2 separate regions of the Homo sapiens genome follow, and region 2 is linked to region 1. Evidence: fine-mapped expression QTL. Tissue or cell type: sun-exposed skin. Region 1 holds a variant in brackets; the other region holds the start of a gene. All regions are shown on one strand. Distances are between the middles of the regions.

Evidence for each region. PIP is the estimated chance that this variant, and not a neighbour inherited with it, causes the effect. A credible set is the group of variants that fine-mapping cannot tell apart.
Region 2: it holds the start of PDZD11, and the variant in region 1 is the best candidate, but not a certain one, in a credible set for the expression of PDZD11 in sun-exposed skin (GTEx, PIP 0.85).

Annotation. Positions count from the first base shown.
Region 1 is chrX:70,217,612-70,222,817 of GRCh38, reverse strand. It overlaps the pseudogene RN7SL581P. Among named protein-coding and RNA genes, the nearest start is that of AWAT1, 14 kb to the left of the region's middle. The variant T/C (reference allele first, on the strand shown) is at 2,427.
Region 2 is chrX:70,287,766-70,292,895 of GRCh38, reverse strand. PDZD11 (PDZ domain containing 11) reads left to right here and starts at 2,969. Exons shown (of 7, transcript NM_016484.5): 1 at 2,969-3,036; 2 at 3,542-3,641; 3 at 4,383-4,466; 4 at 4,723-4,779; 5 at 5,066-5,130. The coding sequence starts at 3,555. It overlaps KIF4A (kinesin family member 4A), which reads right to left and starts at 2,792. Exons shown (of 31, transcript NM_012310.5): 1 at 2,746-2,792; 2 at 2,318-2,458; 3 at 2,091-2,205. The coding sequence starts at 2,437. RefSeq lists a silencer at 2,812-2,991.

The sequences.
Region 1 (5,206 bases):
GAGAGGGAAAGGACAGGTTAGAGGGGGTGGAGATGGAAGTGAGATGTCTCTGAATATACTGTATCATATCAGCTAATAAGTGTGGAGGGAATGACAGAAATAGAAAAACATTATTGTACAACCTCTGATGAAATAATAGTGTCAGTCAATGATGATCATTGGCTGCTAAAACCATGAGGTGAAAGGTGGATATAGAATGTCACAATGAAAAGATCACGCTGTCACCACCTGCACTTCTGATCAATCTTAGAATCACTAAAAGTGGGGCAACCTATACTTATGAAGTATTAGTATACTTCATATATATAAAGGACCTACCTATACTTATTCTTACCTCTAAAGTTAATCCTGAATCTAAACAAGCCTTGGACTAACTTTCAGTTTACAGGAAATGGAATAAAGGAACAAATTAAAAGATACCACAGGGAAGCAAACAGAGAAATCCAGAATCCAGGACTTTTTACAGGACAGTAATCTAGTTTCTTTAAGAAGTCAGTGGATCCGGGCTTGGAGACACGTACCTGTAGTCCCAGCTACTTGGAACGCTGAGGCAGGAAGATTGCTTGAGCCCAGGAGCTCTGGGCTGGAGTGTGCTATGCCAGTGGGGTATCTGCACTAAGTTTGGCACAAGTTTGGCATTGATATGGTGACCTCTCGGGAGCAGCGGGGACCACCAGATTGCTTAAGGAGGGGTGAACTGAGCCAGGTTGGAAATAGAGCAGGTCACAACTCCAGTGCTGATCAGTGGTGGGATCGTGCCTATTAATAACCACTGCACTCCATCCTGGGCAACATAATGAGACCCCTTTTCTTAAAAATAAGTCCGTGGTATGAAAAAAGTGAGGGACAGGAGATGAAGGACTGCTTTAGATGAAAATAATTTATGGGACATCATAAACCAACTGGAAAAAATATTTTTAAGGCAATGAGGGAAATTTGACTATGGACTGAGCATTAGATGATACCAAAGAATTAATTTTGTTAGTTGTGATAATGGCTTTATTTTTATGTAAGAAAATATTCATATTTTTCAGATGTGACATATGTAAGGGTGAAATTTGCTTTAAAATACTTCAGCAAAAATAGAAAATTTGAAATAGATGAAGGAAGTGGTATTATCTTGATAATTGTTGAATCTAGGTGATGAATTTATGGAGGTTCATTATACTATTCTCTCTACTTTTGTATCTGTTTAGAAACTTTCATAATAAAACATTTTAACTCCTCCAACAATTCCTCCTCTCACTTAGAAAAAATATCCAAAGTCAACACCTTGATCCCTGAGGTCCTACTTGATCTAGTCCCTGTCACCTCTCTCACCTCATCTTCCATTCTCCCCCTGTTCATTTCACCTCAGCCAGTTACCAGGCCATCTTGCTGTTCCCTAAACATGCCAAGTAGATTCCTTCTCAGTATTTTTGTCCTTACTCATCCCTTTGCTTGGACTGTTCTTCCCCCAGTGGCAGCTGGTTGCCTCACTTCATTCAGATCTCTATCCAAATAACACATTTCCAGGAAGGGTCTCTGTCAGTACCCCAGCTGAAATAGGACTCCCACTGAGCCCTTGATTTTTCTTCACGGTACTTATCACTACCTAATGGTGTGGCTTGCTTACTTGATTGATTGTCTGCCTCCCTAAACTAGAATACAAACTCTCTGAGGGCAGAGTCTTTGTTTTATTCAGTGCTGCAATCCCAACATCTGGTAGGTTGGCACAAAAGTAATTCTTTTTTTTTTCCTTTTTTTTTTTTTTTTTTTTTTTGAGACAGAGTCTCACTCTGTCACCCAGGCTGGAGTGCAGTGGTGTGATCTCAGCTCACTGCAACCTCCGCCTCCCAGGTTCAAGCGATTCTTCTGCCTCAGCCTCCCGAGTAGCTGGGGCTACAGGCATGTGCCACCATGCCTGGCTAATTTTTGTATTTTTAGTAGAGACAGGTTTTCACCATATTGGCCAGGCTGGTCTTGAACTCCTGACCTCGTGATCTGCCCACCTCGGCCTCCCAAAGCGCTGGTACAGGCATGAGCCACTGCACCCAGCCTTAGTGCAAAAGTAGTTCTATTAGGTTGCACCAACCTAATAGAACAGTGGTTGCCACATAGTAGGAACTCCATAAGCATTTGTTAAAATAACCAAAGAACAGGGTAGTGATCACTTGAAAGCACTGAGTGATTTGTCAGGTTGACACATTTGCTGAACTGCTAATCCTCTACAAACACCATGTGCTATAATGACCTGTATATGTCATATGGTGTGACAGATCTCGGAGATAAAGAGTGAGGCATCTCCCAGACTCTGCTTGTCTTCAGGGAGGACTTGTTTGCACAGATGCTTTGGGGCTGTGTTACCTGGCTCACCTCCAGGCAGTTGGTTTGTAAAGCGGGTGGAGCCCTCCTCTAGCTATCAGCATGACTGCTGTGTTTTCTGA[T/C]TCACCAGTTCCCTGTCCAAGGCCATCCCTAAGCTCTGTTTTCTTCCAGTTACTGGGGAAAACAGGAAAACTGGTTGTTGAGAAAAAGCGCCACCAGGTCTTGGGAGCCAGCATGTAGGCTCTCAATGTTTTTAATTCTTCCTCAGACATCGTGCCTTGAGACTGTGGTGGTTTATGTTGTGGAGGCCTGAAAAGAGTGAGTTCCCTGTGACAGTTGTGGACCTGGCAGCAGCAGTGAGTCTGAAGGTCTGTTTACTTCCCTCAACAAGGAATTGTTCCCCTATCTACATTACATCCAACCTCTCCCTTGTCCCTCTTGGTACTTTCTTGTTATGCAGCGACAGAATAGAAGTGAGCTTGGGCCTGAGGCACCTGAGGGATGCCTGAGCAGAGGCCCCATTCATTTCTTTTCAGCTCAACAAATGCTAAGGGACCTTGACCACTGATTTTGCTGCACATGAGGTAGTGTTGTGCCATTGGGTTGGAGTCTTGCTTCTGCCTAGAAAGCACCAGGGCCAAGGAAAAACATTTGTAGGCTCTGAGGAGGGCCCCACTGTTTTCTCTTAAGGGAATAGACCACAAAGGAACTGCAAGCAGAGGGACTCTAAATCCTGAGCCCATCTTCTGAGAGTCCCTTCAGTTTATTCTGTTATTTTTATGGTTTGATGATTTAAATGAAACTCTTTAATCTAATTACAATACACTTAGGTATACGGCATGACATTTTAACTCTTTCCTCCAAATAATAGCTTACTTCCCCTGTAGCACCATTTATTGAACAATCCACCTCTTCCTTGTTTATTTGTGAGGCTTCCTTTATCCTGTATTCTGTGTGTGTGTGTGTGTGTGTGTGTGTGTACACACAGACATGTATATATATATATGTTATTTCAACTGTTTATTCTTTCAGATGAATTTTAGAATAAATTTCTTACATTTCAGACAAAACCCTGTTAGTATTTTATGTACATTAAACATTCAGTTTAATTTGGAAATAATAGCTTCACAACATTGAATTGTCTCATCCAGGAACGTGGTAAATCTCTGTTTATTCCCACATTCCTTTATGTATCTCATTAATGTTTGTAGCTCTTTCTCCCATTGTGTTTTCTAGTCTGGTTGTTATTGGTATATAGGAAAAGTTTATTTTTGTGTATATTATCTTGTATTTAGCTGAACTCTCTTATGAATTCTAACAATTTCTCAGCTTCTTCTCTTGAGTTTTTAAAGTAAACAACCATATTGTTTGCAAATAACTTATAGCTTAGTTGTTCCTGGGCCAAGTTCAGACATTAGGCTATCATAAGGTAAACTCAAATCCTATTGGCACAATATAATAATACATTGTAATTTTGTTCCTAAAGACTCATCTCACACTGTAAAAATGCCAAAATTGATCATGAAAATAAATGAAAAGAAAATCCAAATATATTATTTTAAAAACTCGTGTTAACTATGTAAAACCAAACACTCAATAGAAATGCTACATCATAAATGCTTCTTTTGGATTGACTAGCCTAAAAAAAAAGAAATGCTTCTCTTGGAGGATTATTTTTTCTCAGAGACTGGACTATCTCAGATGCCTTAAAATAGACATCCATTGTGAAGAACATGAAAAACTACTGAATTTGTACACTTTAAAAGAATGAATTATATAGTGTATTAGTCTATTAGTCTGTTCTCATGCTGCTAATAAAGCCATACCTGAGACTGGGTAGTTTATAAAGGAAAGAGGTTTAATTGACTCACAGTTCAGCATGGCTTGGGAAGCCTCAGGAAACTTACAATCATGGTGGAAGAGGAAGCAAACACATCCTTCTTGACATGGCAGCAGGAAGGAGAATAATGAGTGAAGAGGGGAAAAGCCCTTATAAAATCATCAGATCTCATGAGAACTCACTCACTATCACAAGAACAGCGTGAGGGTAACCACCCCCATGATTAAATTACCTCTCAGCCAGGGACAGTGGTTCATGCCTGTAATCCTAGCACTTTGGGAGGCCTAGGCAGGTGGATCACCTGAGGTCAGGAGTTCAAGGCCAGCCTGGCCAACATGGAGAAACCCTGTCTTTACTAAAAATACAAAAATTAGCCTGGCATGGTGGTGGGTGCCTGTAATCCCAGCTACTCAGGAGGCTGAGTCAGGAGAATGGCTTGAGCCCGGGAGGCAGAGGTTGCAGTGAGCCGAGATTGCACCACTGCACTCCAACCTGGGAGACTGAGCAGGACTCTGTCTCAAAAAAACAAAACAAAACAAAACAAAACAAAACAAAAACCTCTCACTACGTCCCTTCCACGACACATGGGGATTATGGGAATTATAATTCAAGATGAGATTTGGGTAAGAACACAGCCAAACCATCATTCTGCTCCTGGCCCCTCCCAAATCTCATGTCCTCACATTTCAAAACACAACCATGCCCTTCCAACAGTCCCCCAAAGTCTTTTTTTTTTTTTGAGACAGAGTCTCACTTGTCACCCAGGCTGGAGTGCAATGGTGTGATTTCGGCTCACTGCAACCTCTGTCTCCCGAGTTCAAGTGATTCTCATGCCTCAGCCTCCTGAGTAGCTGGGATTACAGGCATCCGCTACCACAATTGGCTAATTTTTGTGGTTTTAGTAGACATGGGGTTTCAGCATGTTAGCCAGGCTGGTCTCAAACTCCTGACCTCAGATGATCCACCTGCCTTGGCCTCCCAAAGTGCTGGGATTACAGGGGTGAGCCACTGCACCCGGCTGTTACAAAGTCTTAACTAATTCCAGCATTAACTCAAAAGTCT
Region 2 (5,130 bases), 70 kb before region 1:
ACATGTATATTGGAATCACTTTCTACTTTATGTTGCCTTTAAAGAACATAATTTAATTCTATCAGTTTCCCAAGTTAAGAATGTAAAAGTAGAACTGTGGTGCTCTTACTAAGCTGTGGAGGTATAGCCTGAGGAATCTGACCAGATAGTGCAGGGTCTGAAAAGCATATTGTTTCAGGAATGGCTAAAGGAAAGGCGGGGATAATTGAAGAGAATTAGGTAGAAACACTTAACGGTTTTCCAAATACTGTATGTAAAAAGGAAAAAGATTATAGTGGAGAAGCCCAGCAGATTAACACCTTAATCAAATGATCAAAATGAACATCAGTAGTAATAGAATAAATCAAAATCATGTGCTGCCCAATAGGCTTCAGTGAGAAGAAAACAGCACCACTTCTGTGATATTCCTGCTAAAAGATACACAACCTGAATCTAATCATAAGTAAATGCCAGACAAAACAATATTGAGAAAAGGTTTACAAAATAACTGGCCTGTAATCTTCAAAGTGTCAAACTCATAAAAGTCAAAAAAAGACTAAAGAACTGTTTTAGAATGGAGACTAAAGAGACAGCAAAACTAAATAAAACGTGATTTTGAACTAGATCTTTTTGCCATAAAATATTTACTGGGACAATTGGTGAAACTTGAATGGGGTTTCAGGAATAGATGGTAGTAATGTAGCAGTGCAAATTTTATTGTTTTGATGGTTGTATTGTGGTAACTTAGAAGAAAGTCCTTTTTTGTAGGAAATATACACTAAAGTATGGGGGGTTATCAGGCCAATGATTCATCTCAAATGGTTCAGGGAAAAAATGTTTTTTATGCTGTTCTTGCAACATTCTATACGTTTGAAATTATTGCATTAATATCTTAAAATTTTGAAACAAAAATTTCAGTGTTCCTTGAGCCATATCATTAAACAAAAAAACGTGAAAAAATATGTGAATAGCTGTTGCCTAGAAGAAGGCTTCTAAAGGAATGAACTAACATCACTGGGTAGAAATTACCAGGAAGCAAATTTCATCTCATTATAAAGATCTTTATAACATAATTAGACTTGTCCAAAACCCAAATCTCAACTGGACTACCTGTGAGTCAGTGAGTTCCCTGTCAAAAAAATTTTAGACACTGGCAGTTCACCTAACAGATATTGTTAGAACGCATTTTTCTTTGGATGAAAAACAAACTAGATGATATACAAATGTCTCTTTCAACTTTAAGGCACTAGCATGCCATGATTCTACTTCTTTTAAACGAACCTCTGTTTTGAATCTTGAATAACCACTGTATTAGAATAATAATTAGACATCTCTCAGGCACTGCTCCCTTCTTTAGAACCCTGCTATGGTCCTCAACAGCATTAAAGACTTAGCTTCCCCAGTAAAGATTATTAACTGGTGATAGTATTCAGAGGCTTTAGGCACTCCCCTTCTCCACCTAAAAGAAGTATACTCATTATTCAAGACCCATCTCAAAGTTTTCCCACTCTGTGAAATTCACCCCAAATTCCCCAAGCAGAGTTAGAGCCATCCTTTTGTTTTTCATACCACTTTGTATGAGAGCAGAGCTACTACTTCCATAGGACTGACTCTGTTGTATATTTTTAACTTGAAAAATTTTTCTTCTAAAAGATAGGTACAAAAAATTTAAAAATTTTTATATATTCAAAATTATTTATGTAGTCATCTATCTCCATTCCTATCCCCTGGACTTTGAACTCCTTCAGGGCCTCGAAGCTATATTATTTATCACCTGAATCCCTCAACAAGCTTTGCAGTGCCTGGGCCTCAAGTAGGTTGGCACACTTATCACCATCAGCAACCACCACAGAGTTTATAATCTAATGAAGTTCCAGGATAAACAAACATATACAAGTCAAAGATGAACAGAACCACATAAAGCAAATACAGAATAAAACTAGCTTCAAGGGTACAGAGACGTTGACAAATGTTATTAGGCTAAGGGCTTCTTGAAGGCAGGAATCATGATTCATCGATTCCTGTATTTGCAGTGCCCAAGCACAGTGCTTGGCACATAGTATATGCTCAAGGAATATATATGTTACGTTCGAGGAATCAAATCGCCTTACCTTTAAATACACCTTTTATGAGTGGCGCTACTGCTGTATTGAAGACTTCTTCCTGTTCAGTAGAGGGATCAAATACAAAATCGTAGGTGAAGGATTTATCTGTACCAACCACCACCTAGAGAAGGCACGGGACAAGGCGTAAGGTTAAAAATGAAAGGCAAGACCACACCCCTCGTTACCATTTGGCCCCAGCTGTTCAGACACAGGCTCTGGACTCTGCTACGCACCTGAGGCTCTCCGGGCACGAAGGAAAGGCACATCTGGCAGCCCTCGCTAATCTCTTTGGGGACCAGAGGGCGACAACGCAGCGCCACTCTTACGGGAATTCCCTTCACCTCTTCCTTCATGATCCTATCTCAGCACCGTCTCTGCGAGGGGGAAAAAGAAGGCTCGCTGATGAATGTTAGTAGGTCAGCAGGGGTGGGAGGGCGTCCTCCCCGGTTCCGACCCTCCTCAGCGGGAACACTGACTTGGGAGATTCACGCTCCATGACTTGGCCAGGGCTGGACCGCCCGTCAGCCCTGCACTCTAAAGAGAGTGCACGGGCTTCTGAAAGGCAAAGAAAAAACTCCAACGGGGACGGCGACAAAGAACCAAAGCCCTAGGGTACTGGGTAAAAACAGGTTCTGAGCTAAGGTGTGCCCCCGTAACTCACCAAACTAAATGTCCCTTCCCCGTTCTCCCTGGGCCTCCCGCCGCCCTGTCCCAGCCGGAGCTTTAACCGCCAAGTTTCAAATCCGTCCCGGAGACGCCAACCAATTGCAGTGCGGACTGCCCGAGGGCGGAGCGCGCACGTCGGCGCGCGCAGGCCGGCGCGGTGGGAAGGGGAGGGTCAGCTCGTTGCACCCTGGCCCGGCCTCTTTTCGACCCTGCGGAGCATCCGCTTCCGGTTCCCAGACTGAATTGTCAGTGAGCGGAGTCTGAGGTCGCTGTGGACTGCCCACTGGTGAGGTGGTGCGGCGTTTATGCGGCTGAGAGTGCGGGTCTCAGGCAGAATGTGGGGCGGGGACGTGGGAGGTGGCTGGTCAGGTGAAGGAAGGGTCGATCTAAGGACCCTACCATTACTAATCACATCTAGGAAATGTGGGGCGGTGCCTTGCCCCGAGTCCCTGCGGATAGTTAACACTCCCTTGGGCTTCGAAAGTAGATCTTTTTAGACTCGACCCTGATTTCCTCTTCTCCAGGTTTGAGACGGTAACATCTGTTTTGCAGGATTGTGAAAAATGAGGTCCTCTTTCTAGAGTACCTGACAGGTTGCTTGGCATCCAGAAGATGTTTAGCTAAGTTAAGAGTTTTCTTCTGTCTTCCTTCTCTCCTCCAACCTTAACACCTAGATATGGGCTGGGCCTGTAGACTGACTGCCTTGGAATGGGTTGGAGCTGCTGTCTGAAACTTGCTGGGCTGCTCTCCCTTTTGAACCACTTTTTGTCTGTTCTGATTCACTCTTCCAGGGCCTTGCCCGAGATGGACAGCCGGATTCCTTATGATGACTACCCGGTGGTTTTCTTGCCTGCCTATGAGAATCCTCCAGCATGGATTCCTCCTCATGAGGTGGGAACCATCTGTATTCCTGAGTAGGAGATTTTTTTCCCCGTGGGCATGAGATGATGCATGAAAGGTAGGATAGCAGGGTTAGAAGGCGAAACGGAGAGTGAATCTTAGCACTTGTAGCCAGAGGACCCAGAAGCTGGATTCTGAGCAACAGGACCCATTGGGAACTTCTTTATGGAAGCCTCCTGCTAGGGTCTGTTCACACCGGTTAATTCTGGAAATTTGGAGCCTTCATTTCCATACTGTTAAGAGGTTCAGCGCGGTGGCTCATGCCTGTAATCCCAGCACTTTGGGAGGCCGAAACAGGCGGATCACCTGAGGTTGGGAGTTCGAGACCAGCCTGACCAACATGGAGAAACCGCGTCTCTACTAAAAATACAAAATTAGCCGGGCGTGGTGGCACATGCCTGTAATCCCAGCTACTAGGGAGGCTGAGGCGGGAGAATTGCTTGAACCTGGGAGGCAGAGGTTGCGGTGAGCTGAGATTGAGCCATTGCACTCCAGCCTGGGCAACAAGAGCAAAACTCCATCTCAAAAAAAAAAAAAAAAGGTGAAGAAATGGGGAGCTACTGGGCTGCCCCAGTGCTATCCATCTACTCATTTAGTCTGTGTTATCTGTTCTACTTAAATTAAGTCTATGACCTTTCCTTTTCCTGACTTCAGGGTAATTCATTAGTGTTTCAGATGAAGGTAGGTGTGAAGTAAGACTGGTAAAATTTCTGGGGTTGCTGTGTCTTGCAGAGGGTACACCACCCGGACTACAACAATGAGTTGACCCAGTTTCTGCCCCGAACCATCACACTGAAGAAGCCTCCTGGAGCTCAGGTGAACTTATGAAACCTTATTTCAGGCTAGATTCATCCATACCACAAATTGGCAGTGTTGGGGGGATGGATTGGAAAGCAGGTGCAGATGTGAGGAAACTTTCCTTCTTGTGGACAGAAAAGCTGAGATAACACTTCTGCAACTTCTGACTTTCCTCTCAGGGACACACAAGCTGAGCTATTGTACGATGATGCTACTAGTTGTTCTTGTGTTTGTGGTCTCCATTGAGCCCCCATTCTGTGCTCTTGTCTTACAGTTGGGATTTAACATCCGAGGAGGAAAGGCCTCCCAGCTAGGCATCTTCATCTCCAAGGTATTTATGCCCAGTAGGCAATATGGATCGTTACTTCCCTTTGTTAAATTAACAGATTGCAGAACCCTAATGTCCCAAGGGCTGAGAGGATGACTCTGGATTCATAGAAGGGGTATAATGGAGACACCCCCTTTCCCACTTAAAACTTTTCATTTGGCAGGCCATCTGTCTGCATACATTGTCACAGAAAAACAATAGCACCATACATTTGAATAGCACCGAATTTCACTGACAGTCTTCTGAAATTATCGCATCCCAATCACATGTATTCTCTCTTTACCAACAGGTGATTCCTGACTCTGATGCACATAGAGCAGGACTGCAGGAAGGGGACCAAGTTCTAGCTGTGAA